Linked DNA regions of Homo sapiens: region 2 is linked to region 1. Evidence: fine-mapped QTL for protein levels in blood plasma. A gene starts in region 1. The other region holds a variant in brackets. All regions are shown on one strand. Distances are between the middles of the regions. Region 1 holds the start of CD22 (CD22 molecule). Region 2 overlaps MAG (myelin associated glycoprotein).

Evidence for each region. PIP is the posterior inclusion probability: the model's chance that the variant is causal. The UK Biobank Pharma Proteomics Project read protein levels with antibody pairs (Olink). The fine-mapping took linkage between variants from a reference panel, not from the people measured, so its PIPs are less certain.
Region 2: its variant is fine-mapped to the plasma level of the CD22 protein (UK Biobank, PIP above 0.99).

What each region holds. Positions count from the first base shown.
Region 1 is chr19:35,326,300-35,331,668 of GRCh38, reverse strand. It overlaps CD22 (CD22 molecule), which reads right to left and starts at 2,482. Exons shown (of 14, transcript NM_001771.4): 1 at 2,439-2,482. RefSeq lists enhancers at 556-605, 1,736-1,785, 1,856-1,905.
Region 2 is chr19:35,307,356-35,312,724 of GRCh38, reverse strand. It overlaps MAG (myelin associated glycoprotein), which reads right to left. Exons shown (of 11, transcript NM_002361.4): 8 at 2,564-2,851; 9 at 2,082-2,178; 10 at 708-807. Among named protein-coding and RNA genes, the nearest start is that of MAG, 18 kb to the right of the region's middle. RefSeq lists enhancers at 278-777, 778-1,279. The variant C/A (reference allele first, on the strand shown) is at 2,966.

The DNA.
Region 1 (5,369 bases):
CCATGTTGGCCTGGCTGGTCTTGAACTCCTGATCTCAGGTGATCTGCCAGCCTTGGCCTCCCAAAGTGCTGGCACTACAGGTGTGAGCCACCACTCCTGGCCGGGAGTTTTTTCTGAGTGTGCTGCACCTCTCCTTCAAACTGAGAGCCCTGCGGGGGCAGCCTCTCTCTCTTCCCAGAACTCCTTCCTTTCTTCCTTCCTTCCTCCCTTGCTTGCTTTTTCCCATCCATCCATTCATCCATCTCTAATTTTATAAACTTCCTGCCTGGCTCACAGGCTTTGAGTGGCACCAGACCACTGAGTGCTTTGAATGCCAGGCCCCGGGTAACGTGGAGCTCTCTCTGGTGCTACTCATCAAGGATTATACTCAGGGACAGACATGGTCAAAACTTGGTTTGAAAGACCAGGTAAAAAGGAATTCTAAAACCAGTAACAAAGTATGGGTGAGCCAGGCGCAGTGGCTCACACCTGTAATCCCAATACTTTGGGATGCCAAGGCAGGCAGATCACTTGAGGTCAGGAGTTCAAGACCAGCCTGGCCAACATGGCAAAACCCCATCTTTACTCAAAATGCAAAAAATTAGCCAGGCGTGGTGGCGTACACCTGTAATCCCAGATACTCATGAGGCTGAGGCAGGAGAATTGCTTGAACCCGGGAAGTAGAAGTTGGAATGAGCCGAGATCATGCAACTGCACTCCAGCCTGGGCGACAGGGCAAGACCCTGTCTCAAAAAGATAAAAAATAAACTAAAAATGTACAGAGCTGGTCAAACAAAACCTATCTGTGGGTTAGGTTCTGCAACTGTTGCCCATCTTTCTTTCTTTCTCTGCAGTGAGCTTGTCCTCTACCATCCCTGACCTCTGCATAGAGTTATATTTACATAGAGTTAAATTTAAGTCCCAATTTACATGATCATGGCCCTCCGTGCTGGCCCCCGGGGACCCTGAAGGATGTGACAGCAGAGTGTGTCTCCGGTCTCAGCACCAACCCAAGCCCCTCCCACTCACCTGCCAACATTTCACACGCATCAATGTTCCTCTCTCTGTCTGTTTATCTCCTCGGGCCACATGGCTCATGCCAAAGGCTGCTGGGTATCTGTTCATGGGTGTGCGGAAAGCTAAGCTGCTTGCCGACAGCAGGAAGGGGGTCTGGCCTGGGCTAAGCATGAATTTGGGGTGCAGGGTCTGAAGCTGAGGCAGATTCCCCAGGCAGAGCTGACATCAGCCCCGCAGGTACTCATCATGTCACATGCAAAAAACATCTTCAAGGTCACATACACTTGAGAAAGGCAGGGTAAAAGAGTTAAGTAAGATTCTTTTTTTTTCTTTTGAGACAGAGTCTCATTCTTCTGTCGCCCAGGCTGAAGTGCAGTGGTGTGATCTCAGTTCACTGCATCCTCTGCCTCCAGGGTTCAAGTGATTCTCCTGCCTCAGCCTCCTGAGTAGCTGGGACTATAGGCATGTGCCACCACACCCGTCTGATTTGTTTGTTTGTTTGTTTGTTTTAGTAGAGATGGGGTTTCACCATGTTGGCCAGGCTGGTTTCAAACTCCTGACCTCAGGTGATCCCCCCAACTTGGCCTCCCAAAGTGCTGAGATGACAGGCGTGAGCCACCGCACCTGGCTTAAGTAAGATTCTTTACTGCAGGACTTTAAAAACCTTTCAGTAAACTCTATCTACACCATTAATCTCTAGACATGGGGATTAGAGTATAGTATAATACATTGTCCATACTTCTTTGGCCATGGGATCTATTTTACATGTTCCATAAAAAACTTAGCAGGGTTGCAGAGCCAGAGTTCTTTGAAATCCCCTTAAGGTTACCTAAGGGGTAACAAGGGCTGTGGCAAGGACTAGACTCCGTTCCCTGCAGCCAACACTTGCCTCCAGGAGCCGGGCCATTGTCCCTCCTCTGCCAGCACCCTCCAGCCACAACCTGCTCTGGGACGGGCTGGAGCATCCCAGCATGAGTGGGAGATGGGCGCCTCCAGAGCAGGACTGTGTGCTGCCTCAAGGAGCTCCAGGAGTCTCTGGAGCACAGGAGTAGGGCCCCAGGCCCGGGAATTGGAAGGCTGAGGGTGGGGTGGAGGTTAGGGACAGCAGTTATTATGCACAGAGGCTCAGGACAGGGCCATGCTGTCCAGACCTCCTCAGTCCAGGCCTGTTGAGGGCCTTGCAGAACCTTGGGGCTGACCTCCCTGGCTCCTTCTTCCCTCCTGGGCATCCAATAACCTACCCTACTCTCAGAAGACTCAGCAGGCCTGGCAAGGAGGATGCTCAAGACAGGGGTCTGTCTACAACCTGTTGTAACACCGGTAAGAGAGAGCCAGGGAGGTCCCCACTGTGTTCCCAGCTCTGGGAGGTATGCCTGGCCCATAACTGCTGTTCCGTAATAACTTGCTTGTTGAATGCAAAATAAAAGCAAAATGATTTTTACCTGTTTCCGCGTGTCTTCCCTCTTCAGGGACCCTGGCAGCATCTGAGAGCAAAAGGAGAAGTACAGTAAAGTCTCTGGTGACAGAGGTTTCCCCTCCATGGCCACACCCCCTGCTTCTCTATGGCTCTGAGGGGGACCAAGCAGCACCGTGATCTGGGGAGTGGGGAAAAGAGACGATTGAGGGGGATGCGGGCTCGGAGTCAGATTGGAAGACTCGAATACGTATGGGCAGTTCTTCCTTTCCGTGTATGGGTTTGCAATATCAGATCAGTTTCAGAATGGGCTCCTCCACAACTCCCCCTCTACCCAGCTCTCAGGAAATGCGAATGACTCAAGCCAAGCAGGAGAACTGCAGCCCGCTGAAAAAGGCACAGGCCTACCTGAAAGTATTTGTAGTTTAGTGACACCATCCAGTTATTACCATTTCCACTCTTTTCATCATAGGCATAAATGGTGGGGAATCTGACCACCTACACTGAAGCCCCCAAGGGTTGAGGGAGGAGCACATAGATATTGAGGAGGAAAAAGATATCTCGGCCGGGTGCGGTGGCTCATGCCTGGAATCCCAACACTTTGGGAGGCTGAGGCGGGTGGATCACTTGAGGTCAGGAATTCGAGACCAGCCTGGCGAACATGGTGAAATTCCGTCTCTACTAAAAATACAAAAAATTAGCTAAGTGTTTTGGCAGGCGCCTGTAGTCCCAGCTACTCAGGGGGCTGAGGCAGGAGAATCACTTGAGCCCAGGAGGCGGAGGCTGCAGTGAGAAGAGATCACACCACTGCAGTCCAGCCTGGGTGACAGAGTGAGACTCTGTCTCAAAAAAAAAAAAAGAAAGAAAGAAAGAAAGAAAGAAAAAGAAAAGATATCTTGTAGGACTGGGCATGGTGGCTCATGCCTGTAATCCTAGCGCTTTGGGTGGCCAAGGCGGGTGGATTGCCTGAGCTCAGGAGTTCAAGACCAGCTTGGGCAACATGGTAAAACCCCATCTCTACTAAAAAAAAAAAAAAAAAAAATCCAAAAATTAGCTGGGTGTGGTGGCGGGCGCCTGTGGTCCCAGCTACTCAGGAGGCTAAGGCAGGAGAATCACTTAAGCCCGAGAGGCTGAGGTTGCAGTGAGCAGATCGCGCTGTGGCACTCCAGCCTGGGTGACAGAGCCAGATCCTGTCTCAAAAAAACAAAAAAGATATCTTGTAGGAAGTGTTATTGAATGGAGAGTCTTTAGGCTGAAACCTCATCACCTTTATAATCCTGTAGCCAGCGAGTGTCTCAGGAGCAGAACAGACAGCATTGGAAGCCATGCACATCCTACAGATGAAGAGGGATGCGCTGAGAGGTCTTCACTCCAGCACCACTGCCCTCTATGGGCAGCTGGCCATAGGGAGGGAAACAGAGAGAGGGAAGAACACCTTCTTCCAAAAGCACCGATAGGGCTGGGTGTGGTGACTTATGCCTGTAATACGCTTTGGGAGAGCAAGGCAAGAGGATTGCTTAAGGCCAGAAGTTTGAGACCAACCTGAACAACACAGCAAAACTCTGTGGGGCTAGTCAACAAAAGCAAAAAATGAAAAGTAGCTGGGCATGGTGGCCCATGCCTGTGGTCCAAACTACTTGGGAGGCTGAGGCAGGAGGATCGCTTGAGCCTGGGAGTTCAAGGCTTCAGTCAGCCATGATAGCACCACTGCACTCCAGCCCAGGCAACAAAGTAAGACCTTGTCTCAGTAAATAATAAATAAATAAAATGAACAAAAAGCAGTGATGTTCTGGAAAGATGGAGTAGATGTATTTATTTATTCTGCCAAGTATAACTGAAAACCTTGAACGTGACAAGACAAGCATAAGAAGACTGAAAGATGGAGAGAAGCAGACTGGTTAGGAACCTCGGGACTTAAGGAATGGTGGTGAATTCCCTGGGATTTCTCTTTGCCTCATATATCTCAGGCTGAATACTGGAGAAGCCAACAACTGAAAATGCCAAGGGGCACAAACAAGAAAAAGTCCCAACAGAACAAGTTCTAGCAAAACTATGCTTTTCTAGCCAAAGAACGAGGAAAGGGGCATCCTAGAAAGACAGAGCTCTTTTAGTCCATACCTGCTCCGCTCCATCCAAGTTCCATCATCACCCTTGTCAGCAAAGGCCGGATGGAAAACCTAGACATTCACCTTCACCAGGCTGTAACAAAGAACCCTAGGCCACTCCCATACTCAGCCAGAGTGATGCTAGAGTTGGAGCTGGGACATTCCTCCCCACTGGGATCACCCTCCCCCGATGTGGTGTTGGTGGAAACCATGTGGGCAGCCTGGACATCCACTGCCACCCCAATGCAGAAATGAGGCATTCCACCCGGCCCCATTGGAGTAGTGTCAAAGGGGGCCTGGTGGAGAGTTGGGACTTTCGCCACCACTCAGTGGTAACAAGCACCCCCCTCTCTCTGCCACACACAGTGTCAGTGAAAGCCACATAGGGAGCAGTAATGAAGCATCCCTCCCACTCCCAGCCAGGGAGTTGTCATGGATTCCTAGTGGGGAACCTGAACTTCTACCCTTACCAAACAATAACATGGAGGCCTCATCTCTCCCAACCCCCCAGGTTCAGGAAAGGCTGGATGGAGAACCTGGACTTTTATCCCTGTCTGGAAGCAATCAGGCAGTGCCCTACTTTATTTCGCTGGAGCAGTATAAAGGGAAGCCCACTAAAACAAAATATTTAAAGAAGATCCAGAATCTTATAACACAGTGCCCAGAATATCCTGACTTCAATGGCAAATCACTTGTCATACTAGGAATCAGGCATTCTCAAACTGAATAACAAAAGATAATTAACAGACACAAACATCAAGACGACACAGATGTTAGAATTATCTGACAAAGATTTTGGAGCAGCCATCATAAAAGTGTTTCACTGAGAAATTATAAATGTGCTTGAAACAAAT
Region 2 (5,369 bases), 19 kb after region 1:
ACACAATGTAACCCCTAATACCTTTTTGGGTGAAAACCACCTAGTCAGGACCCCATCTTTCCAAATTCCTGGAAATACCTGGTTTGGTACGTGCCCCCCCATGGGTCCTGCATGGGTCCGCCCTCAATCTGGGAGGTCCTGCAGGTGACATGTGGGTTCCCCCCACGCTTCCCACCCCTCCCTCCACCCCCTAGCCACAGGAATTTGGACACACAGGACGGTGGCCACAGACAGAAGGGAGCTGCAACAGGACAGACTAGACAAGGCCAGCACTGCCGGGCAGGCCCGGACATCACCAGAGACCACCTTGACGCCTGACAGGGACACACGGACATGCACGCCAACCCCAGGGCCCAAGGAGGGCCCAGAGGAGGGCACACTGAGGCCCCCGGAACCTACCTCCTGGGGCACTCAGTGAGATTCCAGGGTAGAAACCTCTTTGGACTATTGGAGAAGGAAATGCAGTCACAGACACAGGCAGGGAGGGGAGGGGGCCCTTAGGCCCCACGTCCCATCGCCCCCTACACAGCTTCGGCCTGGGCACCTCCTCCCCAGCCTCCAGGTCCAACCCAGCCCTGGAATGTCCTTCCTCTCCTCCTGTGAGAGGCCGCTCCCACTCCCCTGCCCCTTGGCCTCACAGGCCTTTCCCAGGCCTTCAGTGTCCCTGGCATCCAGGTTCCCAGGCCAGCCTGGAGCCTGGTCCTTACCTCGTACTTCTCTGGTGCCCCAGAGATGCGGAAGTCGCTGCTGAACAGGACGGGAGGGTTGTCCCCTGCCGAGAAGCTGGGGCTCTCTGTCACGTTCTTTCTGCAGGGCAGGACTCGTCAGACCTCTCTCTGCCCTCCCTTTCTGCACCCCCACGTGTTTTAGGAGTTTGGCTCAGGGGACCTCAGAGTTCTCCCACCCATCTCTAAGATGTGGCAAGCAGCCCTTTCAGAACCACCAGCCTCTCCTACCCACACAGCCCATCCTTCCCACCTCTGTGGCCCCTGCCCGGCTGGGGACGAGCCACCTGGCCCCTGAGCTCTGCCGTTTTTCAGGACCCCCACCTGGATTCTCCAGGTTCCCCTCATAGGCTCTGGGTCTTTCTGCCCCTCTTGCCACCAGGATGTGGAGCAGAGGGGTTAATTTATTTCTCAGGACAGCTGATGTGTGTGTGCCACAAGAAAGAAACACGGCTGCAGCTGAGTTGGGCCAGGTGGGTATGGTTTGGGGCTGGAGAGGCTTTCTGTCTGTCTGTCTGTCTGTTTGTTTGTTTTTAGAGACAGGGTCTCTCTTTGTCACCTAGGCTGGAGTACAGTGGTGAAATCATAGCTCACTACAGCCTCAACCTCCCAGGCTCAAGCGATCTTCCCTCCTCAGCCTCCCGAGTAGCTGGGACAACAGGCACGTGCCACTAGTAGCTAATTTTTTTGTTTTTTTGTAGATGGGGTCTCCCTATGTTGCCCAGGCTGGCCTCTAATTCCTGAGCTCAAGAATCGTTCCACCTCAGCCTCCCAAGTAGCTGGGACTACAGTGTGTGCCACCATGCCTGGCTAATTAAAAAAAAATTTTTTTTAGAGATGTGGTCTTGCTATGTTGCCCAGGCTGGTGTCAGATTCCTGGCCTCAAGCAATCCTTCCTCCTTGGCCTCCTAAAGTGCGGGATAACAGGCGTGAGTCAACGCGCCCGGCCAAGGCCTATTTTTTTTTTGCCCCAGATGTGTGTAATCTTTGGGGCTTCTGGCGTCAAGTGGACCTGCTGCTGTGGCTGCAGTGGGGTACCTGGGCTTTCCCCACCACACTGGAGTGTGTAGGGGAGAGTTCCTAGAGATAGGGAGGCTGTCAAAATAGAATGTGGGCAAACAGGTCTCAAATGATGTGTGTAAAGGGCTCAGCCCAGGCCCTGGTGTGCCCCTGACCAGCAGGGGCTGGAATTAACAGGAACCCTCTCTCCTCTGTCCAGCTGAACATTCCCAGAACAGAATCTGCCTTCTCTACACTTATGGTGCTGCCTTCCCCCACCCACTCTGGGCCTCCATCTCCCACCAGGTCCCCTTTTTGGAGACTCCCATCCCCAGATCAGCCCCAGCTGGCACTCACTTCCTGCGTGTCTGGGTAATGTAGCAGACGATGGCAATCAGGATGGCAAAGGCGACCACGGCGCCCACAGGCCCGATCTTGGCCCACATCAGTCGATCTGAGGACAGAAAAGACCCAGGCGCCCTTAGGGCTATGGGTGGTGGTGACGACACCTGAGAACTTTGGAGACATGCTGGGATGACAGTCAATGTAGTCACACAGCCGGGGCATCCTTGCACTGACTGATTGGCACGGAGCCTCCTCGTGCCAGGGCAATCCCTTTCATGCTAGAGGGCCCTGGGGAGGGGCTCATGCCTCAAAGGTCCTAGCAAACTCGGGGCAAACTCAGGGCGGCTTCTCCTCTCCAACCGGAAAGGGAGAATTTGACCTTTCTGTCAATCTGCATAGCCCATGCTCTGTGGCTGTTGGTCAGCCTTGGGAGCTTGGATCTAAGACGTGCCCGCTCCCTCCTGTGGCTCCCACCCCAAGTCCACGCCACTCACGGGCTCCCTGGAAGGGCAGCTCCAGGCTCTTGGCGCCATAGAGGTTCCTCGCGGTGCAGATGACGCGGGGCGGGGCCTGGGCCTGCCCCCGCAGCGTGAGGATGCTGGTGAGCACGAGGCCGCTGCGCTCCGAGTACACGAACTCCCGCTCGCTCTCGTTCACGGTCACATTGCGCGATGGCAGCTCAAAGGCCACGGACGGCTCCGGGTTGGACTTCACCACGCACAGGCACTGCACCGTGTCTCGGGCTGCCGCGCAGTGGGACTCCAGGAGGAGCACAGGGGCGACTGCAGGGGCAAAATCAGGTCTGAGGGTGGCCCGGAGCCAACGCGAGGCCCGGCCCCGGAGACTCCTTGGCTCAAGGCAAGGCCAGTGTGGCCAAGGATGGGGGCGGTAGCTTC[C/A]TGTAGGGCCCTCCAATTTCCCCTCCTTTTTTCTCTGTCCTGACTGAGAGCGCCTTGACCTCACTACGACCCCGCCGGCTGCCTGTTTTCACTGCAAGCTTCACTAACCCACGCCTGGGGCCTTGAACATTCCCAGGCACTGATAAAGGTGTTTAGGTTGTTGCTCAAAACACTGAAAGAGGCCGGGCATGGTGGCTCACTGCTGTAATCCTAGCACTTTGCGAGGCCGAAGAGTGAGTGGATCACTTGAGGTCAGGAGTACGAGAGGTTACAGAATGAGACGCTGTCTCAAAAAAACCCCAAACAACAACAACAACAAAAATGAAAGAATGAAAGAAACCAGCCCCAGCCCTGGGCCAAATTCCTTAAACCCTCATGTAAACCCATACCCTGACCCTCACGGACGTGTCTGGGTAGACCCTCCCTTTCTCTCGCCGTAGCACTGTGCAAGTTCCCCTCCCAAATGCTTTGGACTGATGATCACCTGGTGGTTTAGTGCCTCTCTCTTTGGAATCCCAAGTGGCCTCATTTCGGGGTGGTTTGGGGTGCTCTCTTGGGGCAATTCTTCTGGTGCCACTTTTGAGGCGACTCTAGCCTCAGCTTCAGCCTGGACAGAGCACTATGTCACAGGGACGGGCCGTTTCTCCTGGGCCCTGGCTCTTACACTCTCTCTAACCTCATTCACCTTGTAATACATAAATCAGATCATGGCACTCTCTGCTCAAAACCCTCCTTCTGTTGCTCCGTGGTTCACCTAAAATACAAATCCTTTATTTTTTATCGTTTAGAGACAGGGTCTGGCCCTGTCGCCCAGGCTGAAGTGCAGTGGCAGTACTATAGCTCATTTGCACTCTTGGCCTCTAGTGATCCTCCCGCCTCAGCCTCCCAAAGTGCTGGGATTACAGGCATAAGCCACTGCGCCCAGCCACATTTGACCATTTTTGACATGCAGAAAAAATTTCACATAGTTCAATGTAATGTATACAGCAAAAAGTACGAATATTCACCCTAAATGAAATCAGTATAGATTACAAACAGCCTTGTGTTCTTTAGGCGAGATTTTGCTGTCAAATCAGGGTGGTGCCAAATTTGCAAAAAGCCTTTTGATTTTAAAGCTTTATGTTCAGAATTGCAGAGGACGGTAAATCTGTCATACTCATGATAGTTACTGGAGGGTTTTTGTTTGTTTTTGTAGAGACAGGGTCTTGCTATGTTCCCCATGCTGGTCTTGAACTCCTGAGCTCAAGCAATCCTCCTGCCTTGGCCTCCCAAAGTGCTGGGATTATAAGGCGCAAGCCACTGTGCCCAGCCCAAAATACAAAGTCTTTCATCTACAAGGCCCCTCAGGCCCTGCCTGACCACACACTCTCTCCTTCTCTCCCCCTGGCTTAGTCCTTTCCAGCCACACCGGTTCCTTGCTGTGTCTGAAAATCGTGGAGCTTTCTCCCACTCCAGGGTCTGTACGTTTCTCCCTCAACTTGGAACACTTCCATCAGTTGCCTGTGGAACGCCCTCCCTCGCTCCAAACTGGCCTCTACCCATGCGGCGTCTCCTTCTCTGACCACCCAGGGAAGCTGCACCTCGCTCCACGTATCATTCACTCCCTGCCTCACTCAGTTCTCCTCCCCAGCACTCACCCTCCCTGCATCACACACTTACATAAGGGGCCTCCTGTTTCCATCAAGACAGGGGCTTGCTCCTTCTCCACTCTGGGCCCCACACGTAGAAGGGAGGAACCATGGAACTCTCCCAGCCCCCGGCCTCCCCAGACCCTTGGGGCTCACACAGGCTTAGACTATCCCCTCCTTTCTGGCTTCCAGGCTGTGCTCCTTCCTTTCAGTCTGCGCTGCAGATGCCCCCCACTTCCTCCCCTAAAGCCGCCTTGAACCCCGGCCCTTCCTCACCCATGAGATTCCCTCCTGCCACTAGCACCAAACACCACCCTCCACCCAAAGTCACTTGGTTGAGCTTTGCTTTGCTGCCACTGGATTACAAAAATAGTACTGGTAGGTTTTTTCTTTCATTTTCCAAAACAGGAAATTATTATTATTATTATTGTTATTACTATGATTTTTGAGACGGAGTCTCTCTGTCGCCCAGGCTGGAGTGCAGTGGCACGATCTCTGCTCACTGCAACCTCTGCCTCCCAGGTTCAAGTGATTGTCCTGCCTCAGCCTCTTGAGTAGCTGGGACTACACGTGCGTGCCACCATGCCTGGCTAATTTTTGTACCAAAATACGCAATTGTATTACAGCACAGAATGCTGCTTTTTAAACTGTGTTCTCTTTCTTGGCCTGAGAGTCCAGCACCCTCCTTGGCTTGCTCTAGACTGAGCACTGGTTCTCAGTGAGTTCTCACCAAAACCCACTTACACACAGGCAAGAGACCCTTGGCTCACCTACCC